Homo sapiens: one gene and its partner. The protein of the gene in region 2 interacts with the protein of the main gene of each other region in a biochemical or structural test. Each region holds a gene or a part of one and is shown on either strand. Other genes may lie near its edges.

Region 1 (8,039 bases), on a different chromosome or scaffold from region 2:
GGGGGTCCAGCCCAGAACAGGGGATCCCTAAACCCTCTGCTCCAATGCTCTGGCCACCATCTTGAGAGGGCTGAGAGGCCAGAGGGGCAGAGCTATCTCTCTTCCACATACTCTCCTGTGGGGCACAGGCTCAAGCCACCCACCCTGTGACCCACTGGTGCACCCACCTGGCCTCAGGCACAGCACACCTTTCCTCGCTCCACACAAATTTCTTCAGCACGTCAGAGCAGCAGTATTGGTCATCACAGGTACCACAGCAGAAATCTGGACAGGACTCGGGGAAGAGGCTGAGTCCACGGGAAGCCATACACACCTCACCACGTGCTGGAGAGGAGAAACACATCTGTTCACCTGTGCCCACGGGCCAGGCCCCAGCAGACACAGCGCCCTCCCTGGCACAGCCACCAGACCACACACACACACACATGCTGCACCGTCTCTGAGCCACCCTAGCCACAGGCCACCTTCTGACCCCTGGCCACTGCTCCCCCTCAGCCTTGCCCTATCCCACGGGCCACAACAGAGCTGCCCTAACTGGGCTCCCTCTCTCCCTCACCAGTGCACTGGCCTCCTGATAGGAGGGTGAACTTTCTCAATGTGAGTCTGATGGGGCCACACCCTGCTCTCAAACCTCCCCTAATTCCCACTGCTTCAGGATCAAGGCCCGAGTTTCCAAGCAGGGTCTAAACTGCAGAGTCCTGAAGATCACTCCAGCTCTCCAACCTGTCCACACTCCGCTCACATTCTTGCCTGGTTCCTATCTCCTGCCTTTCAACTCTACTCATCCTTCAAGGCCCTACTCCAGGTGGCCTCCTCCAGAAGCTGCCCAGGCGAGAAGTCACACAGCTCAACACCTGCAGGGGACCAGACACTGGACTGTCCCTTTCTTTCTTTTTTTTTTTTTTTTTTGAGACAGAGTCTCACTCTGTTGCCCAGGCTGGAGTGCAGTGGTGCGATCTCAGCTCACTGCAATCTCTGCCTCCCAGATCCAAGCAATTTTCCTGCCTCAGCTTCCCGAGTAGCTGGGATTACAGGTGCCTGCCACCAGGCCCAGCTAATTTTTTGTATTTTTTAGTACAGACAGAGTTTCGCCATGTTGGCCAGGCTGGTCTTGAACTCCTGACCTCAGGTGATCCACCCATCTTGGCCTCCAAAGTGCTGAAATTACAGGCATGAGCCACCGCACCCCAGCCAGACTGTCTAGTTCTTAATCCTCGTTCACTCTCTCCCTCACTCAACCACAGCAACCTCAGCCCCTGCTGGGCACCACAACTGCAGGGGCCTGGCTCTCACAGACCACCCCATAACCATGATGGCAGGCTAGATCCTGGTCAGAAATTGTCACACCCACCATACCAGCGTTCATAAAGCACTTAGCCCCGCGCTGGGCCTGCAGCAGGTGTCCAGGAAATGTCTGTGCCTTCCAGGAGTTTGAGACCAGCCTGGGCAACAGGGCTCCAAGGCAGTGGCACCATCTGTAGCCCTGGAGCCATCACAAGACTCTCAGCACAGAGTTGGGATCTACTGACATCCTTACAAGTCTCAATAAACGAGGTCATGCTGAGGGGATCTGGCTGACAACAAATGTGGAAAATAACCCAGGTTTTTGGATGACCACAAGGTTTACAAACCTCCAGGAAGATGCTACAGTCAAATGTTCCCATGTATCCTCAGGCTACATTAGCAGAGACCTGTGCCCACTAACAGGAAGGAACAGTACCGGATTCTGCCAGGGCAGACTCCAAAGAGAATACCTAGTCCAGCAAGGCCCACAAGTCCGCAGTAGGCAGGGGACAGGTCTGATGATAGCCCTGAGGCATAACTACATCGGCCTGGAAACAGTCTGCCATAGCACGTGGCCTCTGGAGACCCAGCCAGGCCAGGCACCTGGCCATGTGCAGCATCTGGTGCCCGGGCCTGATCAGGACACCACACACCCCGAGGCTGTCAGTAGAGTGAAGCCCAGAGACAGAGACACCAAGTGACCTCCTTGGGAAGAGGGAACTTTAGTGGGGAGTTGGGGGGAACTGCACTTCTTGGCAGCTCCAGGCAGAACCCTGCTCTGGGCAAAGCCATGGAGCAGAGGATTGGACCATTGACAAGCCCAGTTTGGCCAGCTGCCCACCTGAAAGCTGGTATCATCAGCATGGCCCGTGCCTGGTGGCTCAGGTGAACCCATATGCAGCAAGGTCTTCACAGCCCAATCTGAGCCTCTGAGCTAGGGCTGAAGACACACCGGTGAGGCTGTTTAGGCTGAGTCCATGGCACAAATGCTCTCTGACCCCCAGACCTCACTGAATCAGTGACCGACCCTCCTACAGGCTCACTCCAGGAGTGGGCGGATTCTGGGCACAAGTCTCCCCTTTCTCATTTCTCTAGCCCAGGTCCTCTGGATTCATCCCAGCCCCCAGGAAATACAGCCTTCCCCTCCACGAAGCCACCCACCCCAAAAGGGTCTTTGGCTTCCCATGGGTGGGCAGGGGATTGTTCCAATTCCTAACCCTTTAAAGGACCCGCCCCCAGCCAGCCTTCCAGACTCTGTGAATCACCTATCTGCAACCAACACACACAGTGGTGTCTCCACCCCAGAGGCCAGCCTCAGCGCCGGGCTCTACAGGAACACAAGGGCCAACGGAGGCAGCGGTGGGGGCTCCCAGACATTAAACAGAGGCAAAGAGGGAAGGCCTCTGATGGAGGGGCCAGCTCGCCCTGCAGCCACCCGCCAGACTAAAGCCAGGCAGGGAACCCTACCCTAGCCTCTGGGGACTCCATCCCCTGGAACATGGGCGGGAGGGCAGACCCCTCCCCACCGTTCCAGGACAGACAAAGGTGGCAGCTGCCTGGTGTCTAGGCAGGGTTGTTCAGGCAAGGAGGGTGCTGGGGTGGAGGAGGGGTCCGCAGTCGTGGGGGTTCGCTGACGGCCTCGGGGCAATCAGGGGTCAGTGGGGGGCATAGTGGGGCTGGTGCTGCCCGGCTCGTTGGAGAGGCAGCGCGGGGAAGTGTCTGCCCGGTCCCAGGGCAGGACGGGCCGCCCCCACCCCCGGCTCACCACCCGGAGGCGGCGTTAGCAGCAGCAGCAACAGCAACGGCAACAGGATCCGCGGCGCGGGGACCGGCGCAGTCATGGCTGGGCGGGCGGACGGGCGGACGGACGCGAGCGCCGGGCGCAGTGCCGCCACAGCCTCAGTGATCCGCGCGGCCGCCCCTCTCCCTCGCCCCGCCCCGCCCCGGCCCGGCTGGTTCCCGGAACCTCTGTCCGGGGGAGCAGGAGGAGGAGGAGGGAGGAGGAGGGAGGAGGGAGGAGGGAGGAAGGTGGAAGGAGGAGGAAGGAAGGAAGCGGACGACTTCCCAGCCTCGGGGCCAGCTTCGCGCCCGGGGTCTGCGCGAAAACTTGGTACCGGTTCCCAGACTCGGACAGGCGCCGGGCGACGCACGGAGTTTCCTTCTGCTCACCGGATGCATGGGGGGCGGCGGCGGCCCCCAGCTCTCAGGCCTGGAGGGCGTCCCCGGGAATATGCACCCTGACACTGAGCGCCTACTGTGTGGGCTGGGGGACAGCCACAGCCATCCCTCCCAGCCGCAGTCCCGGCGGATCCTCACTTGCCCGAGGGCTACGTGAGGACTAGGTGAGGCGGTGCGAGGACAGTGCCCAGCGCAGACCTTGGCACTCAGTAGACACTCCACAAATGCCGGTTCCCTTCTACAGGCCCAGTCGCCAGCTCAGAGGACACTCGATCTCCTGCCCCCTGGGACTGACACCATCATCCCAAGGTGATCCCCAGCCCCAGCCCTGGCAGGCTCAGCGCTGGCGCAGTGGGCCAGGACTGAGCTAGAAACTGGCAGCTCCCAGGGCACACAGCCAGGCCAACTTCCCACACAGGGCTCCGCCCCCTCACTTCGGGGCAGGGGTCCAGGCAGAATCAGGGATGTTGAGTCATTCTTCCTTTTATGCCCAGAGTTCCTGACCCACCCCCACTCTGCACCTAGCACAATCAGAACATTTCACTCAAGACAGAAAACGTGAAATGTCACACTAGTGGGGCACCCAGGCTGGGTTGTGCACCCTGTGTGCCACCATATATTTCTCACCTAAAGGTGGGGGCATCGCTGTGGACAAAGAGAAACCCAAGGGGACAATCTGGGATGTTCCCAGTAGTTTCCCAGGCTAGGGTGTTAGAACAGGGAGAGGAAGGCCTGGGTCTCCAATAAGCCCCCATCACCTCCTGGCCAAGAAGGGCTTAAGACTCACCGTGCTCAATACACATGTGGGGGGCAGGGATATGACAGTTCCCAGGCAGGATGCCCTCTGGGAGGGTCTTAGTGAGGGACTGGAGTCACATCCTCCCTGACAGCCCAGCCTGGTTATCCCACCTCTGCCTCCTGAGCGCCACTCTCCAAAGCTGGGTGCAGCCTAGGTCCCCCTTCTGCAGAATGGCCAGTGTATGCTCCTCATGTCCAGCTCTAGAGCCATCCTGTGTTCCACACCCTGGGTGCCCAGCCCTCTGCCTCCCTAAAGGTTGCTCATTCCACTCTGCACCATCCACAAGCTTGGTTTCTTGTTCCTTGGTTTTCCAGTCCCTGCCCCCCAGCCAAGCTCCTAAGAGTTGTTCTAAGCCTGGGCAACATAAGGAGACCCCATATCTACAGAAAATTTTAAAATTAGCTGGGTATGGTAGCAAGCACCTGTGGTCTCAGCTACTTGGGAGGCTGAGGTGGGAGGATCATTTGAGCCCAGGAGATGAAGGTTGCAGTTATGATTGTGCCACTGCACTCCAGTCTGGGCAACAGAGCAAGACCCTGTCTCAAAAATAGAAAAACAAGGCCTGGTGCAGTGGCTCACACCTGTAATCCCAGCACTTTGGGAGGCAGAGGCAGGCAGATCACCTGAGGTTGGGAGTTTGAGACCAGCCTGACCAACATCTCCATGTTGGATAGACATGGACCAACATCTCCATGTTCAGTAGAGCCCCGTCTCTACTAAAAATACAAAATTAGCCAGGTGTGGTGGTGCATGCCTGTAATACCAGCCACTCAGGAGGCTGAGGCAGGAGAATCGCTTGAACTCGGGAGGCAGAGGTTGTGGTGAGCCAAGATCGCGCCATTGCACTCCAACCTGGGTGACAGAGCAAGACTCCATCTCGAAAAAAAAAAATGAAAAAAAAAAGAATTGTCCTTTCCCACCTCCTATGCTTGCCTTTGGCTTCTCTACTCTGCTGCCCCCAACCCCAGATCCTTTAGGGGCCTCTCACCTGGCCTCTTCCTCCCTACTTTTTTGGTCTTTGGCTCTCCCATACCCTCTTATCTGCCCACAGCTCATGGTTGAGCTTGGTGGGTGTTTTGGGCTCCACCCAGGGCTGTGCATGGGCAGGAGTGAGTGGAGGCTAGGATCACCCCAGTGGCTTGGAAATCGCAACCATGCATCTCACAGGCATGTGCCCATGTGTGCAGGCATTTTCTGTGGGTCTAAGGGAGGAGACCACCCCTCATATTGTCTTATGCCCCATTTCTGCCTCCAAAGAAAGAAAAAGTAAAAACTAAAAGGCAGAAATGAAATCCACAAGCAGACAGCCCGGCGCCACACCCTGGGTCTGGTAGTTAAAGATCGACCCCTGACCTAATCAGTTATGTTATCTATAGATTACAGACATTGTATAGAAAAGCACTGTGAAAATCCCTATCCTGTTTTGTTCTGACCTAATTACTGGTGCATGCAGCCCCCAGTCACGTACCCCCTGCTTGCTCAATCGATCACGACCCTCTCACGAGCACCCTCTTAAAAGGGACAGGAATTGCTCACTCGGGGGACTCTGCTCTTGAGACAGGAGTCTTGCCGATGCCCCCGGCCAAATAAACCCCTTCCTTCTTTAACTCGGTGTCTGAGGAGTTTTGTCTCTGCAGCTCAGGCTTGCAAAGCCTGGAAATACAAGTTGCCTGGGGAAAGTGACCCCTCCAAGGCAGAAACCAAACTTGGCCCAGATGCTGTACCAAGGCTAGGACTTGGCCCAGATGCTGTACCAAAGCTAGGTGGCTCCCCAAACCTTCCTACAGCTCTGTAAACAGCAATTTTTTTTTTTTTTTTTGAGACAAGGTCTCACTGTCACCCAGGCTGGAGTGCAGTCACGGCTCACTGCGGCCCCAATTTCCCCAGGAAACTGGGGTGATCCTCCCACCTCAACCTTTGGAGTAACTGGGACCACAGATGCACACCACCACGCCCAGCTAATTTTTGTATTTTTTGTAGAAGTAGGGTTTTTGCCATGTTTCCCAGGCTGGTCTCGAACTCCTGGGCTCAAGCAATCTGCCCGCCTCAGCCTCCCAAAGTGCAACAGCACTTTTATCAAACTCTCCTCAAATACCCAGTTTGTTAAGAATGACTGTGTTCTGCTGGGACCTTGGTTACAGTTTGTAGGTGAGAACTCTGCATCAGGCTGGTGGAGCAAAGCAACACCCACTGATGCTTGTAAAGCCCAGGGTGAGAGTAACCAGGTGAGAATGAGGCCATCAGCCCAGCCCCAGGACTGACTGCAGGACCAGATCGGTGAGTTCTACAGTGGAACGCTTGCTCAAGGATCCTTGCCATTCTTCTTCATTCAGCACCTGGTCCCCTTTCCTCCACATCAGAGGAGGAACACGCTAGATATTATCTTTTTCAGATTCCTTTGCCCCAGGGCAAGAGCTTTTGCCCAGCCCCAACCAATCAGATGTAGCCTCCCTGGAGTCAGTCAGGGGTACTGGCCACCAGCTTTGATGGAGGGCTGCAGCAGTCCTGGCAGAAACATGAGTCTGCACCTGTGGGGAGGGCTGTGTGAGTCACAAAGGCCCCTGCTTCCCCCTCGTGGCAGGAGCAGTGGCATGCTCACCAGGCCAAAGTAGCACTGTGGTTTGGGCTGGAGACGATACTGCTTCGACTTGGAACCTTTCTTTCCAGCCGCCTTGTTGGCTCTGAGGGCTCCACAGTTGCTTTTCATAAATTGGGTTTCTGATTAAGTTGGGCAGAGTCAGTTTCCTCCAACTGACAGAGAAGTTCTCACCAGGGCCGGGCACCGTGGTGACTCATGCCTGTAATACCAGCACTTTGGGAGGCAGAGGTAGGCAGATACCTCTTGAGCGCGGAGTTTGAGACTAGCCTGGGCAACATGACAAAACCCCGTCTCTACAAAAAATACAAAAATTAGCTGGGCATGGTGATGCGTGCCTGTATTCCCAGCTACAAGGGAGGATTGCTTGAGCCCAGGAGGCAGAGGTTACAGTGAGCTAAGATTGCACTACTGCACTCCAGACTGGGCAACAGAGCAAGACTCTGTCTCAAAAAAAAAAAACCTAAAAAAAAAAAGAAAACATCTGGACAAGGTGGCTCAAGCCTGTAATCCCAGCACTTTGGGAGGCCGAGGCGGGTGGATAACCTGAGGTCAGGAGTTCAAGACTAGCCTGGCCAACATGGCGAAACTCCATCTCTACTAAACATACAAAAAAAATTAGCCAGGCGTGGTGGCGTGCACCTATAATCCCAGCTGCTCAGGAGGCTGAGGTGGGAGAATCACTTGAACCAAGGAGGCGGAGGTTGCAGTGAGCCGAGATCGCACCACTGCACTCCAGCCTGGGTAACAGAGCGAGACTGCTTCAAAAAAAAAAAAAAAAAAAGAGAAAACTAGGCTGGGCGTTGTGACTCACGCCTGTAATCCCAGCACTTTGGGGGGCTGAAACGGACAGATCACTTGAGGTCAGGAGTTCCAGACCAGTCTAGCCAACATGGCGAAACCCCGTCTCTACTAAAAATACAAAAATTAGCTGGGTGTGGTGGTGCATGCCTGTAATCCCAGCTACTGGGGAGGCTGAGGCATGAGAATCACCTGAATCTGGGAGGTGGAGGTTGCAGTGAGCCAAGATCGTGCCACTGCACTCCAGCCTGGGTAACAGAGTAAGACTCTGTCAAAAAATAAAAAAATAAAAAAAGGGGAGACAGAGAGAAAGAGAGAAATAAAAAATAAATAATTTTTTTTAAAAAATTAGTCCCCATCAGGAATGGTAGCAGATGCCCA
Region 2 (3,307 bases):
TCCTGCCCTGCACAAAGTAATTACCAGAATTACTATGGATAAGGCCCCAACAATTCACCTTCAATGTTTCATGCTTCTACTTTCCCTAACTTCAGCTTAGTTTTGGAAGGTGTGAACACTTCTTAAGGGCAAAGTTCCATTCTAGGGTCCAGGAACCAGGAACTAATGGTCAGAAGCTGGAAGCTCATGGCAGGCAGGACTCCATCCCTCCCAGACCTGTGAAATCTTATTGTCACTCACTCCGGCTTAGGACAATGAAGTGAAGCTAAAATCAGGGTCCATGAACCCATGTAGTCCATTTGAAAGGATTTGCATAAAAATGGTCAAATATGCAAATGTTTAGTGCTGCTTAGTAAGGTAAGCACCATGTTGTAGGTCACAGTGTGGCCAAGTCTATCTGTGCTAAACTCCATGGTAAGAGCCACCAGGCTTCCTGGAAAGGCTGCATTTCTCAGAAACACATGAACCAAATCATACCTTCTGTACTACATGGTAAGCTTTCACAATGCCAAAGAAAATGGAATGCAACAGAACTTTTAATCCCATAAAAGACTCAATATATTTGGCACCCTCATTTTATAGTACTCCTTTTTGGTACAGAATCATTTTGCCAAAATACTCCTGTGATACAGATGCACATGATAAACTGTAAAATGGAATTTCACCCATTGAAGAGCCCCAAAAGAACAATATGGTAGTGCAGCATGAACTAACATGCAATTTCTAATTTTCAATATCCCCAAATTGCAAAATACTAATAGCTAATATATATACTATATGCCAAGTATTAAGTACTTTGTAATATTATCATAATCTGTTATAACCGCACTATGAGGAAAGTAGAATAGTACAATTATCTCACTTTGCAGATGAAGAAGCTGAGGTATAGAGATCAATTTACACAAAATCATATAGGCTGTTAGGCTCTCAAGTCTAGCTCTTAAGAGTTGATAAATGTGGAGCCTTTGGCTAGTAAGCTTTGCTACTTCTGGAAATGAATTTAGCCTTAGAAGTATGTTGAAAACTACTGTTTATGATTTGCTGTTAGACCAACAGGTAAACAGTGAACTATAAGTCAGTGTCACGAAAATATCAGTGTCATGAAAAGGCTAGAGTACATGGAGGGGGAAGATAACTTCTGGCTTGGGAGGTGGCCAGAGGGTCAAAGAAAGCTTTGCAGCAGTGGCATTTGAGCCAGGCCTTGGAAGATAAAAAACATTTGTGTCCTATACTTAGTAGGAGCTTGGTCAAGACAACACAAATATTAACAAAACTAATGACCTAGATGACATTAAGAAATATACCCTAAACAAGATGCACAACACATGTGTGACAATATTCTTGCTTCATTTCAATATCCACTTTACCCTAGTGTTCTGATTTCCAGTTTGGTTGTCATATCCATGTTCGTAACAATACCAAAATAGATTATGGAGACCAAAATCTAATACTGTTTCTTTTTTATGATAAACACCTTTTATTATATCTCAGTGTGCAAAAATACAAATTATCTTAAAAAAAATACAGAGCACTCTCGCTATGGATCCAGGCAAAGACAGGACAAACAAAAATTCCCTAACAGATGACAGTGAACACTTCGGTGGATTGAATCTGGGAACTACAATAGCCCTGCTCTCATTATACTATGAAGCCAAATTAATCAACTTTGATAATGATACACACTTAAACTATGAAAACCAATTAAGGCACAGTATCATTCAAAATTTATAGACAGAAGAGCAATAATCCCGAGAAAATATAATTAAAATACTCTGCTGAACATGGAATGACACCACATTTGTAACTTAACACTGGCAAAATTTGGAATGATTATAGCATAAAAGACATGGTTTTTCTGAAAAGTGGACAGGGAGGTGTGGTATATAGGAAAGTGGCTCACATTCAAGACTCAAGTTTATTTTTTAAAAGATCTCTTCTGCATTAGATTCTAGGTTTCTTTTTTGGTTTCAAAACTGGGTCTACAATCCATAAAAATGACATTAATGGAGATCTTAAAAACAATCTGATTATACCAGCAGTTTGGTAACATATCGGTAGAGCTGTTCTGTAAATGCTTCAGGGGAAAATTTTTCCTTCACTCTGGCTCTTCCAGCCAGGCCCATGGTGGCTTTTAAGGAAGGTTCACGGATGAACTTTTCTATTGCTTCTGAGAAGTGCACCGGGTCAGGCTCACACAGAAACCCTGTGACACTGTGGTCAATGGACTCCAAGGGTCCACCCGAATTAACAGCAATGACTGGGCACTGCATGTACATGGCTTCCAGAGGGACAATGCCAAAGTGCTCATTGCTTGGTGTGTAAAGCACACACGTGCAGCTGTGGAGGAGGGAGATTTTCTGTTTGTCTGAGAAAGACCTCAAGAAGGTCACATACTGGCCAAGGTCGGACTGTTGGACCATTTTCTTCAATTCCTGATAATGTTCCACATTCTCCAGGACTCTCTCGTCATAACCACCTGCCACGATCAGATGAACCCTCTCCCAATCTTGGGATGTCAATCTTCCACGCAGCTGTACTAGGGCTTCCAGTGCCAAAGTCAGATTTTTCTTCCTTTCGTATCTGTTGATGGAGAGCAGCAGGAATTTTTTCCCCTTGGGGACTAGGTCATCCAGCTTTTCAGGAACAACTGAGTCAAAGCTGGTGACATTTAGAGATGGATAGAGGACATCAGGGTCTATGTGAGACAGGGACTTGAATGTTTCCTTAAAAACAGCAGCTGTGAACTGGCTGTTGACTAAGATGCAGTCTGCCATGCCTGTGGTGTATTCCTCTATCCAGTCAATTGGGGCCCTGTATAGTCGTTTAAGAAAAGAATCTCTCTTGGTGAGAAGCAGATCTGGGAAGTGACAGTAAAATAGGATCTTCTTCCGCCGTCTAGCCAGCCTGAACACTGGGATACAGGCAGACACCTAGCCAAAGCAAAAATCAACAGCGGATAAAGTGGTCAACTCAACTTCAACCAAACCAAAAACACAGACACCCACCCCGTCTGGCTAGTCTGTGGGCTCCTCATGGGCAATGTCTGATTCTGTTTTATTCCCCAAGACTCTCACCCAGTACCATATGCCTGGTGTACAGAAGGCTACAGACGTTTGCTAGATGTGTGCTAAACATTTAAAGCTTCAAGTCCAGTGATTTCCTCTTGTATAGTGCTGTCTAATAGAAATCTAGTAATATTAAAAATGTTTTTAAGGGTGAAATTAATTTTAACATATTATTTACCGAAAACATTATCATTTCAAAATGTAACCAATACTAAACAGTATTAATGAGATACTTTATATAT

What was found.
Region 1: the proteins of ALG2 (region 2) and SHISA5 form a complex in vitro, tested with the Homo sapiens proteins (one study listed by BioGRID).

Annotation. Positions count from the first base shown.
Region 1 is NC_000003.12:48,500,970-48,509,008, forward strand, and holds the start of SHISA5 (protein shisa-5 isoform a precursor), read right to left. Parts: upstream 3,206-8,039; 5' UTR 3,126-3,205; coding exon 3,050-3,125; exon of another isoform or gene 2,752-3,049; intron 2,225-2,751; exon of another isoform or gene 2,126-2,224; intron 325-2,125; coding exon 168-324; intron 1-167. UniProt on the Homo sapiens protein: Can induce apoptosis in a caspase-dependent manner and plays a role in p53/TP53-dependent apoptosis.
Region 2 is NC_000009.12:99,215,907-99,219,213, forward strand, and holds the end of ALG2 (alpha-1,3/1,6-mannosyltransferase ALG2), read right to left. Parts: intron 2,931-3,307; coding exon 2,028-2,930; 3' UTR 519-2,027; downstream 1-518. UniProt on the Homo sapiens protein: Mannosyltransferase that operates in the biosynthetic pathway of dolichol-linked oligosaccharides, the glycan precursors employed in protein asparagine (N)-glycosylation.